Regions from separate parts of the Homo sapiens genome. Here regions 2 and 3 are each linked to region 1. Evidence: fine-mapped expression QTL. A gene starts in region 1. Each other region holds a variant in brackets. All regions are shown on one strand. Distances are between the middles of the regions. Region 1 holds the start of TTL (tubulin tyrosine ligase). Region 2 overlaps TTL (tubulin tyrosine ligase). Region 3 overlaps ANAPC1 (anaphase promoting complex subunit 1).

Region 1 (4,241 bases):
CCATCAGATTGGTCTGATTTGGACCAGTTTCCTACGTTTTACCAGTCGCTGTGGCAAAAGGGATAGAGAGTAATCCTGTTGGACCAAGCCTGGATATTCATTTCCTTTATCAATAACAGACACTGTTAATCCCACAAGAGCCACAAAAAATGGGTTCCAAGGGGGTCAGGCGCTGCGGCTCATGCCTGTAATCCCAGCACTTTGGGAGACCAAGGCGGGCAGATCACTTGAGGTCAGGAGTTGGGAGATCAGTCTGGCCAATATGGTGAAACCCTGTCTCTACCAAAAATATAAAAAGTAGCCAGGCATAGTGGCCTGTGCCTGTAGTCCCAGCTACTCAGGAGGGTGAGGCAGGAGAATCTCTTGAAACCCGGAGGTGGAAGTTGCCGTGAGCTGAGATCACGCCATTGCACTCCAGCCTGGGCGACAGTGCAAGACTCCCTAACAGACACACACACACACACACACACACACACACACACACGTTCCAAGGAGGAAAGATGAGTTACCTTACAAAGAAAAGGGAATAAGCTGGGTGTGGTGGCTCACGCCTGTAATCCCAACAGTTTGGGAGGCTGAGGTGGGAGGATGGCTTGAGTTGAGGAGTTCGAGACCAGCCTGGGCAATATGGTGAGACCCTGTCTCAAAAAAAAGTGGGGTGGGGAATAAGTAGTACCGTACAGAACCTACAGCTAAAAGAAACAAAAATGGTGCTCGCTACAAAAAGTGAGAAAAAGGAAAAAGGTAGCTTCTGGATTTGGAAATTCAAAGGTCACTGGTGTTCCTAATGAGATCCACGGTTGTGGAGTGGCAGAGAGAAGCCACCTGTGGCACAGGAGTCGTCAGTAGGAGTCGCAGGAGGAATTGATGCAGCATGGTGGGAGTGGACGTCACTTTCAAGGTGATCAGCCGTGAAGAGCGGCAAACACAGCGTCTTGGCTCGAGTTCCCCCAAACGGTGCCCCCTGGAACAAGAATTTGAGCACGAGTACAGTAGTTTTTTTGGGAGGTGATCCCAGGAAACATCGGTAGTCAGGGAAAGGAAGGAAGCCAACAGAAGATGCCCTGATGAGCAAGTTGCAGCTGTGGACAACCGCAGCCGTGGCCTACAGAGGACCACCGCAATACGCCTAGGACACACGCCTCCCCGCAGGGCACGTGCGGAGGGCGAGAGGGCCAGGGCATTCTCGACCAACTCTATCCCTCGTGGAGGGAGAGCAGCTGGGAAGGAGTGCAAGCACCCAGCACCTCTAAGTCTGCCCCATTTCTGCTCTGAGCGGGCTCTCCACAGCCAGCGGTTGCCTGCAGGTGGAGCCGGTGCGCAAGACAGGCGAGTGAGCGCCTGGCGGCCCCGTGGAATCTGGGCAACGATGGGAAGGAGAAGGGCGCTTTTACAATGTGCTCGGGTAGATACCGTGAGCATCGGGGGACAGGAAGGGGAGAGGCCCCAGGGTGTTCTTTATCTACAGGAGAGTAAAAGATGCAAGGCGCAGGGCTGATGTGGGTAATTTATGAGGGACTGTAGGAAGTTTGGGGGAGCTCTGATGATCATTGCCTTCTCTTTGTATCTCAAATGCAGCAGCACAGTCTTCAGAGTGGGCTATCAGAACCGAAGGGACTTTTAAGAGCCACTCTCCGCCGCTCATAAGGGGAAATCGAGGTCCGGAGAAGGGAAAGCAAGTGGCTGAATGCCGGTAAAAGGCAGGAAAAGAGCGGAGCCCAGGGCTCCAGGGGGTCGGTTTGGGACCTGCTTCCACCAGCAGAGTCTAAGGTCATCCCCTTGGCCGTGCGCCACCCTGGGCTCAGCCGAAGGAAGGAGCACTCGACACAAACAAAACCGACGCTCCGGGTCTCCGTAGTCGTTAAGCAAAGAGGAAGAGGAAGCGCTTCTTCATTAGGCCACAGGACCGGGCCTTAGAACTTTTGGGTTTTATCCATTAAAGGTCCTTTGGCAATAGAAGAAAAACCCAGATCGAGCCCTGCAAACTGGGATCTTCCGCCGGCACCGCCCCCCGGCTGCGACCCGGGGCTCGGAAAGAACCACCCCAGGCCCGGGCTCCGGTTCCACCGCACAGTCCGCCCGCTGCGGTAAAGCCGCGCCCACCGCCGCGGGTCTCCAACCCTGCGCCGCCGCCGCCCCCGGGGGAGGGTACGGAAAGGGCGCGGCGCCGCCGCCCACGGGCTCCTCCAGAGCGCGGCGGGGCCGGGCCGCGCGGAATCACGGGACAGAGGCGGGGCCGCGCCGGCGGGGGCGGGCGTGCGAGCGGCGCTTTCCTCTCCGGCACCCGGCGGGCGCCCGGGCGCGGCGCCGCCGGCACCCGAGAGGCGCGGTAGCCGGCGCGGGCGGCGGGGGCCGGGCCGCGGCGGGCGCCCGGGCGGGGTCCGCGCTGAGCCGCCTTCTCGGCCGCCTGGTCCCTGCGGCGGCTGCCCGGCGGCCCGGGCGCGCGGCGCTTCGCCATGTACACCTTCGTGGTACGCGATGAGAACAGCAGCGTCTACGCCGAGGTCTCCCGGCTGCTCCTCGCCACCGGCCACTGGAAGAGGCTGCGGCGAGACAACCCCAGATTCAACCTGATGCTGGGAGAGAGGAATCGGCTGCCCTTCGGGAGACTGGGTGAGCCCCTCCCCGATTCCCGTCTGCCCTCCTCGGAGCGGCCCTGCGCGCCTCCCGCGGCCCGTTAGAACCGGCGCTTTTGTTTTTAAAGGTCATACATTTTCTCCTCTGTCGCTTGTCGGGCACATCAGAAACGGATTCGGAAAGATCGAAACCTGTCGTTTTTAATGCTTTCTTGTCTCCTAACTTGGATTTAGAGTCGGAGTCGCGGTGCGGCCACTCGGGGCCGCAGCTACCTCCCGACGGTGACCGGTCCCTGCAGCCCGGGAGACGCTGGCCGCCGGGGCTGGGACCTGAGGCGCGAGTCTAGCGGCTCCCCCGGGCCGAAGCCCCCAGATTTGGCGGGTCCGCCGCGCTGGGCGCGGCTCCGCAGAGCGGGCGGCTGGAGTCATCTTTTGCAGCTCGTCTGCACTGAGGATTTCTCCCTGCTTGGCGTGGGCGCGGGCGGGGGAGCCGTAGGTGTTGAAACCCCTGAGGCTTCTGCCCCCCGAAGGCGCGGAGGAGCGATCAGAGGATTTGGAAAAGACCCCCGGATTCCAAAAGCAGGAGCTGCAGAAGAGACCCTAGCCCAGGGAAGTGTGGAGGGATGTCTGATTATAAACCTTTCCTTAGTTTCACCAAATAATGTGTTTTCGCAGTTCTGCATTGGATTAAGATCTTACACGAGGCTGCGTTCGCCCTCCCTGTCTTCCCTGCTCTCCCCGAGGGAATTACCTTCATCCACATGGTTGAAGCTGGCTGGGCACCACCATACCCACATGTCCACGGGTAGGAAAGCGCAGGAGATAGGAGGGGACTAGCGGCTCCTTTGTAAGTGATGTCATCCAGAAGTTGCCCAGATCGGTTCAACTCACATCCTATTGACCTGAGCATAGTCTCATGGCCTCCCTCTCTGCACAGTCATCTGGGAATTGCATCTTCTCTCCGGGGAGCCATGTTCCTTGCCAGAATTCACCAGAGGTGGGGGCCAATTGTATTCCAAAGACAAGGGGAGAATCGATACGGAGGAAGAGTCACCTCTACCTTGGAGGGCAACCCAGAGAGAGCAATGTTCTATGTCCAGGAGAGAAAACAGTTTTTAGAAATAGGTGTGGTCAGAATTCAAATGGGTAAAAACTGAATACGGGCCATTTGGAATTGACTGGTCATTTATGAGCTTCCATAGACAGAGCCTTTGGGAGGGGGCTGTGTAAAACTCAAATCGTTGGAGGAATGAAGAGCTGCAGTGTAAAGTTGCTGGATTTTCTTCTTTTGAATAGTACCTGGGACAACTTTTCATTGGTATACAAGTTTATGATGTAGAATGGTGACTCCATGGAAGGACCCATTTGAACACCCAGAAATCTTAGAATATGGAGACTGTGCCTGGAGGCTCCCTTTGGTTAACCGGTGTCAGGAAGACCCTAGCAAAGAGAATTCATGATCTGAAAGGAGAGGAAGAATTGCTTATAGTTGAGAACAATTATTTGTTCCTTGCATTGTCCACTTCCCCTTCCAGACTTCCTGACTTCCCTCTATATTCTTGGCAGTGCCTAGCTGTGAAAGCTTAGGTGGAATCATAACATTAAAAACAACAAACATGGCTCCGCCCAGGCAGAGGTAGGAGTGACTGGCATTACCCTGGTGCT
Region 2 (4,241 bases), 43 kb after region 1:
GTGTGTAAAGTCGACACCAGACCATGCCATTCTCCAGACTTGCCATTGCACCTAGGACACAAACCAGACTCCTCCCTCCACCTCCAAGGCCGCTGCCTTACCCACCTCTCCAGCTTCATCCCAAGTCACCATTTCCCTTGATTGCTCTTATCTGCAGTGGGCCTTTGTGCTTTCTGTTACCTGTGTGTGGAATCCCCACCACCATTACCACCACCACCACCAGCCTTACCGTGGCTGGCTTCTTCTTTACCAAAACATCTTGAGGAAGCTTTCTCTGAACAGTCCTAGCTCTGATTTTCTCTAGGCAGAGCCTTTGCAGTTTCCTTCATTGCACTAACTGCCATCAGATTAACTCATCAGAAGAAACTGTCTGTGGGTGTGTGTGTGTCTGTGTGTGTGTGTGTGTGTGTGTATCCGCCCCTTCTTCTTTATTTCTACCCTGTCATCCATTCTCTGTCTGCCTTCTATTCATTGGGTCTTGGCTTAGCTGCCACTGGAAAGTCTTCCCCTGTCACTGGGGAGTCTTCCTCTGTCACTGGGGAGTCTTCCTCTGTCACTGGGGAGTCTTCCCGTGTCACTGGGGAGTCTTCTCCAGTGTCCCTTCAATTATGCTGAGTTGGTCCTTTTCCTGGGTAGGGCCTGCCCCTGTCTGTAATGCAAGGTGGCTCTTACATGCTCTTGAAATGCCTGCCTTCCCTGCCAGTTGTGTGCCTTGTTCACCTGCAAGGCCTTCCATAAGTATTTGCTGAGGGAATGCTTTATCTTCGTGCAAAGGCTTCTGAAGCATCTGTATATACAGTGGCAACCAGTTTTTTTTTTTCTTTATTTTTTTGACATTTTGTTATTATTATACTTTAAGTTCTAGGGTACATGTGCACAATGTGTAGGTTTGTTACATATGTATACATGTGCCATGTTGGTGTGCTGTACCCATTAACTCATCATTTACATTAGGTATAACTCCTAATGTTATCCTTCCCCCATCCCCCAACCCCACAACAGGCCCTGGTGTGTGATGTTCCCCATCCTACGTCCAAGTGGTCTCATTGTTCAGTTCCCACCTATGAGTGAGAACATGCAGTGTTTTGTTTTCTATCCCTGTGATAGTTTGCTCAGAATGATGGTTTCCAGCTTCATCCATGTCCCTACAAAGGACATGAACTCGTCCTTTCTTATGGCTGCATAGTATTCCATGGTATATATGTGCCACATTTTCTTAATCCAGTCTATCATTGATGGACATTTGGGTTGGTTCCAAGTCTTTGCTATTGTGAATAGTGCTACAATAAACATACATGTGCATGTGTCTTTATAGCAGCATGATTTATAATCCTTTGGGTATATACCCAGTAATGGGATGGCTGGGTCAAATGGTATTTCTAGTTCTAGATCGTTGAGGAATCGCCACACTGTCTTCTGCAATGGTTGAACTAGTTTACAGCCCCACCAACAGTGTAAAAGTGTTCCTATTTCTCCACATCCTCTCCAGCACCTGTTGCTTCCTGACTTTTTAATGATCACCATTCTAACTGGTGTGAGATGGTATCTCATTGTGGTTTTGATTTGCATTTCTCTGATGGCCAGTGATGAGCATTTTTTCATGTGTCTTTTGGCTGCATAAATGTCTTCTTTTGAGAAGCGTCTGTTCATATCCTTTGCCCACTTTTTGATGGGGTTGTTTGATTTTTTCTTGTAAATTTGTTTAAGTTCTTTGTAGATTCTGGATATCAGCCCTTTGTCAGATGGGTAGATTGTAAAAATTTTCTCCCATTCTGTAGGTTGCCTGTTTGCTGATGGTAGTTTCTTTTGCTGTGCAGAAGCTCTTTAGTTTAATTAGATCCCATTTGTCAATTTTTGCTTTTGTTGCCATTGCTTTTGGTGTTTTAGACATGAAGTCCTTTCCCATGCCTATGTCCTGAATGGTATTGCCTAGGTTTTCTTCTAGGGTTTTTATGGTTTTACATCTAACATTTAAGTCATTAATGCGTCCTGAATTAATTTTTGTATAAGGTGTAAGGAAGGGATCCAGTTTCAGCTTTCTATGTATGGCTAGCCAGTTTTCCCAGCACCATTTATTAAATAGGGAATCCTTTCCTCATTTCTTGTTTTTATCAGGTTTGTCAAACATCAGGTGGTTGTAGATGTGTGACATTATTTCTGAGGGCTCTGTTCTGTTCCATTGGTCTATATCTCTGTTTTGGTACCAGTACCATGCTGTTTTGGTTACTGTAGCCTTGTAGTATAGTTTGAAGTCAGGTAGGGTGATGCCTCCAGCTTTGTTCTTTTGGCTTAGGATTGTCTTGGCAATG[C/T]GGGCTCTTTTTTGGTTCCATATGAACTTTAAAGTAGTTTTTTCCAATTCTGTGAAGAAAGTCATTGGTAGCTTGATGGGGATGGCATTGAATCTATAAATTACCTTGGGTAGTATGGCCATTTTCACAACATTGATTCTTCCTATCCATGAGCATGGAATGGTCTTCCATTTGTTTGTGTCCTCTTTTATTTCGTTGAGCAGCGGTTTGTAGTTCTCCTTGAAGAGGTCCTTTACATCCCTTGTAAGTTGGATTATTGGTATTTTATTCTCTCTGAAGCAGTTGTGAATGGGAGTTCACTCATGATTTGGCTGTTTGTCTGTTATTGGTTTATAGGAATGCTTGTGATTTTTGCACATCAATTTTGTATCCTGAGACTTTGCTGAAGTTGCTTATCAGCTTAAGGAGATTTTGGGCTGAGATGATGGGGTTTTCTAAATATACAATCATGTCATCGGCAAACAGGGACAATTTGACTTCCTTTTTTCCTAATTGAATACCCTTTATTTCTTTCTCCTGCCTGATTGCCCTGGCCAGAACTTCCAACACTATGTTGAATAGGAGTGGTGAGAGAGGGCATCCCTGTCTTGTGCCAGTTTTCAAAGGGAATGCTTCCAGTTTTTGCCCATTCAGTATGATATTGGCTGTGGGTTTGTCATAGATAGCTCTTATTATTTTGAGATATGTCCCATCAATACCTAGTTTATTGAGAGTTTTTAGCATGAAGGTTGTTGAATTTTGTCAAAGGCCTTTTCTGCATCTATTGAGATAATCATGTGGTTTTTGTCTTTGGTTCTGTTTATATGATGGATTACGTTTATTGATTTGCATATGTTGAACCAGCCTTGCATCCCAGGGATGAAGCCCACTTGATCATGGTGGATAAGCTTTTTGATGTGCTGCTGGATTTAGTTTGCCAGTATTTTGTTGAGGATTTTTGCATCGATGTTCATCAGGGATATTGGTCTAAAATTGTCTTTTTTTTGTTGTGTCTCTGCCAGGCTTTGGTGTCAGGATGATGCTGGCCTCATAAAATGAGTTAGGGAGGAGTCCCTCTTTTTCTGTTGATTGGAATAGTTTCAGAAGGAATGGTACCAGCTCCTCTTTGTACCTCTGGTAGAATTTGGCTGTGAATCCATCTGGTCCTGGACTTTTTTTGGTTGGTAGGCTATTAATTATTGCCTCAATTTCAGAGCCAGTTATTGGTCTATTCAGGGATTCAACTTCTTCCTTGTTTAGTCTTGGGAGGGTGTATGTGTCCAGGAATTTATCCATTTCTTCTAGATTTTCTAGTTTATTTGTGTAGAGGTGTTTATAGTATTTTCTGATGGTAGTTTGTCTTTCTGTGGGATCAGTGGTGATAACCCCTTTATCATTTTTTATTGCGTCTATTTGATTCTTCTCTCTTTTCTTCTTTATTAGTCTTGCTAGCGGTCTATCAGTTTTGTTGATCTTTTCAAAAAACCAGCTCCTGGATTCATTGATTTTTTGAAGGGTTTTTTGTGTCTCTATCTCCTTCAGTTCTGCTCTGATCTTAGTTATTTCTTGCCTTCTGCTAGCTTTTGAATGTGTTTGCTCTTGCTTCTCTAGTTCTTTTAATTGTGAAGTTAGGGTATCAATTTTAGATCTTTCCTGCTTTCTCTTGTGGGCATTTAGTGCTATAAATTTCTGTCTACCCACTGCTTTAAATGTGTCCCAGAGATTCTGGTATGTTGTGGCTTTGTTCTCATTGGTTTCAAAGAACATCTTTATTTCTGCCTTCACTTCGTTATGTACCCAGTAGTTATTCAGGAGCAGGTTGTTCTGTTTCCATGTAGTTGAGCGGTTTTGAGTGAGTTTCTTAATCCTGATTTCTAGTTTGATTGCACTGTGGTCTGGGAGACAGTTTGTTATAATTTCTGTTCTTTTACATTTGCTGAGGAGTGCTTTACT
Region 3 (4,241 bases), 660 kb before region 1:
TATTCTGCTTCTCTCAAAGTTTAGTTTCACATGGCATTTGAGCTTTGATAACCACTACAGCAGCTATTAGGAAAATTTTAAATCACTGGGGATAGAGGGAGCATTTCTTTTGTTTTAACTAATTTAAAGAACTACACTTAATGCATGTACTTAATCATTTTCCTTTCTCATTGAGCCCAGAATTTAACATACCAGTCAGATTCAATTTAGGAATAGGCAATGGCTCTGTTGGAACAGGATGGTACGAAAACAAGGTAAACATTCCTCGTCCTACAGGAAGAGCCATAGTTCGCTGACACAATTGGAGCAATCTGTAATTAAAGTAAAAACCAACATATGAAAATGTTTAAAGCAAAGAGCAATTGAAATATCATCTGTAAGTATTTCAAAAGAAGGTGTACTGTATAAGATGAAGTTGTCTCAAAGTAAATTCATACACAGATGTGAGTGAACTACCCAAACATGATTATTTTCATTTTAATATTCTTGTTCCTATTACACTCTTAGGGAGAGACATATTTCCTCTGTTTTGTTTCATATTTACATTGAATGAAAACCACCTGGCCTATAAACCCAGCCGACTCTCTCTAGGCATTCAAAAAAAAAAAGAAATTTAAAATTCCACTCCGATGGATGCTAACCTTCTCAAAGGAAAATACAGTACTTTTGGGGTTTTTATCACTGTGTTAATTTCAGTCTAGCTGTCCTCAGTACATGTGGGATCCTCCTCCCATCCCTTTTGCCAATACAGCCTCAGAAGTACCATTTCTGTGGCCTGTACACAAGAAAAGAAACAAGGTCCTTGTGTTAGAGGTGAATGGATTTCATGGTGTCTCCAAGGGAAATACAGATTGGTTTCACTTACATGATGGCTAGATTTATAGGACTAATACCATTATGTATCAGGTATGTTCAAGGTTAAAATGGTTTCTGTTGGCTCTACTGTGAAATTAATACACCACTCTTCAACTTCTTCCTATGTTAAAATAGCTTAACATTCCATATAGCCACTTAAAAAAAACTAACAGAAATTTTGGAAGTAGGGCATTTATAACTAAGAAACGCCTATACAAGCTATATCTGAAGACACAGAAATATCCCTTCAGAGGCTGACAACTGACAAACATTTTCTCTGCAGACAAAGCTATTCATAAGCATACTCCCTCCTTAACTGGACACACATAACTGCTTTTCTAGCTAACTGGAAAGAAAAATTTTGCTGTCTTAAAGATTCTCTGGGAACACAACCGCAACATTAATTTGGGATCAGGAAAATTCAAAGCCAAGAGGCTGTTGCAACCCATAGAATTTTTTTAGAGGAAATCTTACACATAATTCACTTCAACTTTGCGCAAGTAACAAAATTATAATGAGAACAATATTATATCCCCTGAATATAAGATGCCACTGATAAGATGTATCATTATTTCATGAGAAACTAAGAAAGAAAAAGCACTGCCAATTAAACTATGACACCTGTTCACTGAAATACACAACTGATTTCAGAGATATTAAAAAGTGAAAAAACTTGCATCTTAGAATCAATGAACTCTACTACTAATAATGGCTGACTGCACTGAGCTTTACTATGTATTGAGCAGTATTCTAAGTGCTATGTAAAAATAATTCACTTGATACACAGCACCATCCCATGAAGTATGCCTACTTTTACAAATGAAGCAACTGAGGCAACAAGAGGTAAAGTAATTTAACCAAAGTCACCCAGCACAG[C/T]ATGGCCATGCCTGGCTCTAGAGGCCATGCTCATAAATCCTATGCTCTAAACTCAACTTCTGTCACTCCATCTTTTTATTCACAGGTGACTAATAACTGGGTACATGTGGAGAGGAAACAGTTAATAGGGAAATCACAACTAATTCAGATCTTCAGCAGCCTGTGGCTAAGTGTGGGTGATGGTTCCCCTCAAAACAGTACCATAAAAAAAGTAAAGAGAACTAGAAAACAGTGGCAGATGAATGATAGATGATAGAGACAAGCAGATAAAAGAACAGGAGAGAATTTTAAAACAGAAGTGTCCCAAGAGAATAGCTCTGGAATGTCATAGGCATGTGAGTCTTATAATGTATCAAGGGATGTATCCTGTGCAGGGGAGTGGCAGAAGAAAGGCTTATCTATTTTTATTTGGAGTATCATCTATCATATCCAAAAAAAAAAAATACTCATACAAGTTTAAACTACACTAAAAACCCCACTAACCTCAAAATCTATTCCTGATCAAGACACAGAAAAACAAGTCCAGTGTTTTCTTTGTTTGTAAATTCTTAAGGTAACTATCAGGCAAAATAGTTTTACATTCACCTTTTCTAAAGAGTAAAGTGTTATATGTATTTCAAGAGGAGGACGATATGAAATACAACAATTACGTCCTCAAAAGCCAAAGACATTTTGCTAACACACGTGGTTTGTTGAAGTTGGATGAAAACTTAAAACACAGGGCATATTTTCACTTGAAAGTATCTTTTAAATCTCTTTAGGGTTTTAAATGCTAAAAACTTGAAGGAAAAACAAATATACACAAGACACAAATGTAACAATGAAACATGACAAGAGATAGTGCACGTGTTTTCTTTCACCTGTTTTCCTTTTCCTCGATGAACTCGTGGTCACTGAGCTCTGGGTACTGCACTACGTTGACACGGACAGGATGCGCACTCTGAAGAAGCCTTCGCACATCCTGCACCCTTAAATCTTCACTCCATATTAATGACATGACCTCGTGATTCATGTCATTCATGCCGTCATCTTCCTCCTCAGTTTCTGTTCCTGAAGGAACATCTGATGAGAGCACCTGAGTAACAGACTTTATTGTAATAATAATTTCAAAAGCAGTTAACATGCACTTGCTGAACATGAGGATATATAGGCTGATGTGTCTTGACTATACTAGCACAGAGAAAATATGTTTTCCAAAGCAGGCATGGGTTGGAGCCGCAATGTATACTGGGACTCTAATCTACAAATCTTTCTAAAAAGTACTATATTGCTGGCCGGGTGTGGTGGCTCACACTCTGTAATCCCAGCACTTTGGGAGGCCGAGGTGGGCGGATCACCCGAGGCCAGGGGTTCCAGACCAGCCTGGCCAACATGGTGAGGATGATTTAAAAAGATAATTGGAGAGTAATGAAATAATTTAACTTTCTACTTGCAGGATTCCTAGAACTCATTTGAAAAAAAAAACAGACTTGATGATTGATGAAAGACAGTATTTCGGGAGGGATAGCTTAAGACATGTTTTTAAACAACTCTACTGAAAAAAACACATTTTTTCCCTGGGGCTGCAGTTTTATGTGATTAAACAAATATGTTTACACCTATTTAAAAGGTTAAATTCAAAAAATTCAACACATCAAAAAATATGCAGTAGAAAATATTTATATATAATTACTCATCCAAATTCAGGATATATGTGCTCTCCCTTTTCCTATGTAATAATTACAAAGTGGTTAATTACTAATATGGTACAAGTAGGGAAATAGCCATGGTAGTTTCCATGACTACCCTCAGGACTTGTCCTGATTCAAGGCAAAGAAAGATCCAGGCACAAGACAGAACATTCACAAAATCTCCTGCTCCTAATGCTCATCTTAACAATTAATAAGACGCGTACAATTACAAACCCCGTCTGGCATATAATATAAAAGACAAGCTAATATATATACTTAGAAAAAGCCTTAAAGGAAAATGAAGAACATTTCTACTTTATGATTTTATTTAAGGCTAAAATTGGAACTCTGAACTTTCTATGTTGATACTCACAGACTTCCCTTTGGGTAAGTTTCCTTCGCAGGCCTGCTTGGAAAGATCCTGACGTCCAATCAAGAGACAGACAGCTTCTGGCCAGTCTGAGGCAGGCTGCTCACGACAGTGATAAATTGCATCTCTGATGGGAAGAGCAATTCCAAAGGGAAGAGTTTCCAAATCTCTTAAAGTGAATCCTAATGGTTAAAGGAAGAGAGAAAAATTTTAATTTAGACTCGCCACTGTCCCAATTATCCTGACTGAAGTTGGCAACAATATCTATCCTGACAAATAAGTTCATTTTATTCATCTTACTACCAGACTAATGTCTTGACATCAAGGACTAGTATAGGAAGTCTCTTTGAAAGAACTTGTAAAAACCTGAAGAAAAAAAGACAATCTAATAGAAAAATATAAAGGACAAAAAGACATTTCCTAGAAGGGGAAACATAAATGGGCAACATGCATATGAAAAGATGCTCTAC

Evidence for each region. PIP is the estimated chance that this variant, and not a neighbour inherited with it, causes the effect. A credible set is the group of variants that fine-mapping cannot tell apart.
Region 2: its variant is the best candidate, but not a certain one, in a credible set for the expression of TTL in whole blood (INTERVAL, PIP 0.60).
Region 3: its variant is the best candidate, but not a certain one, in a credible set for the expression of TTL in gastroesophageal junction (GTEx, PIP 0.89).

The regions. Positions count from the first base shown.
Region 1 is chr2:112,479,889-112,484,129 of GRCh38, forward strand. TTL (tubulin tyrosine ligase) reads left to right here and starts at 2,268. Exons shown (of 7, transcript NM_153712.5): 1 at 2,268-2,613. The coding sequence starts at 2,457. RefSeq lists an enhancer at 1,599-1,668 and silencers at 1,989-2,378, 2,939-3,038.
Region 2 is chr2:112,522,962-112,527,202 of GRCh38, forward strand. All of the region lies in intron 6 of TTL (tubulin tyrosine ligase), which reads left to right. Among named protein-coding and RNA genes, the nearest start is that of POLR1B, 17 kb to the right of the region's middle. The variant C/T (reference allele first, on the strand shown) is at 2,310.
Region 3 is chr2:111,818,648-111,822,888 of GRCh38, forward strand. ANAPC1 (anaphase promoting complex subunit 1) reads right to left here. Exons shown (of 48, transcript NM_022662.4): 25 at 3,775-3,953; 26 at 2,592-2,806; 27 at 193-311. Among named protein-coding and RNA genes, the nearest start is that of MIR4771-2, 50 kb to the left of the region's middle. The variant C/T (reference allele first, on the strand shown) is at 1,732.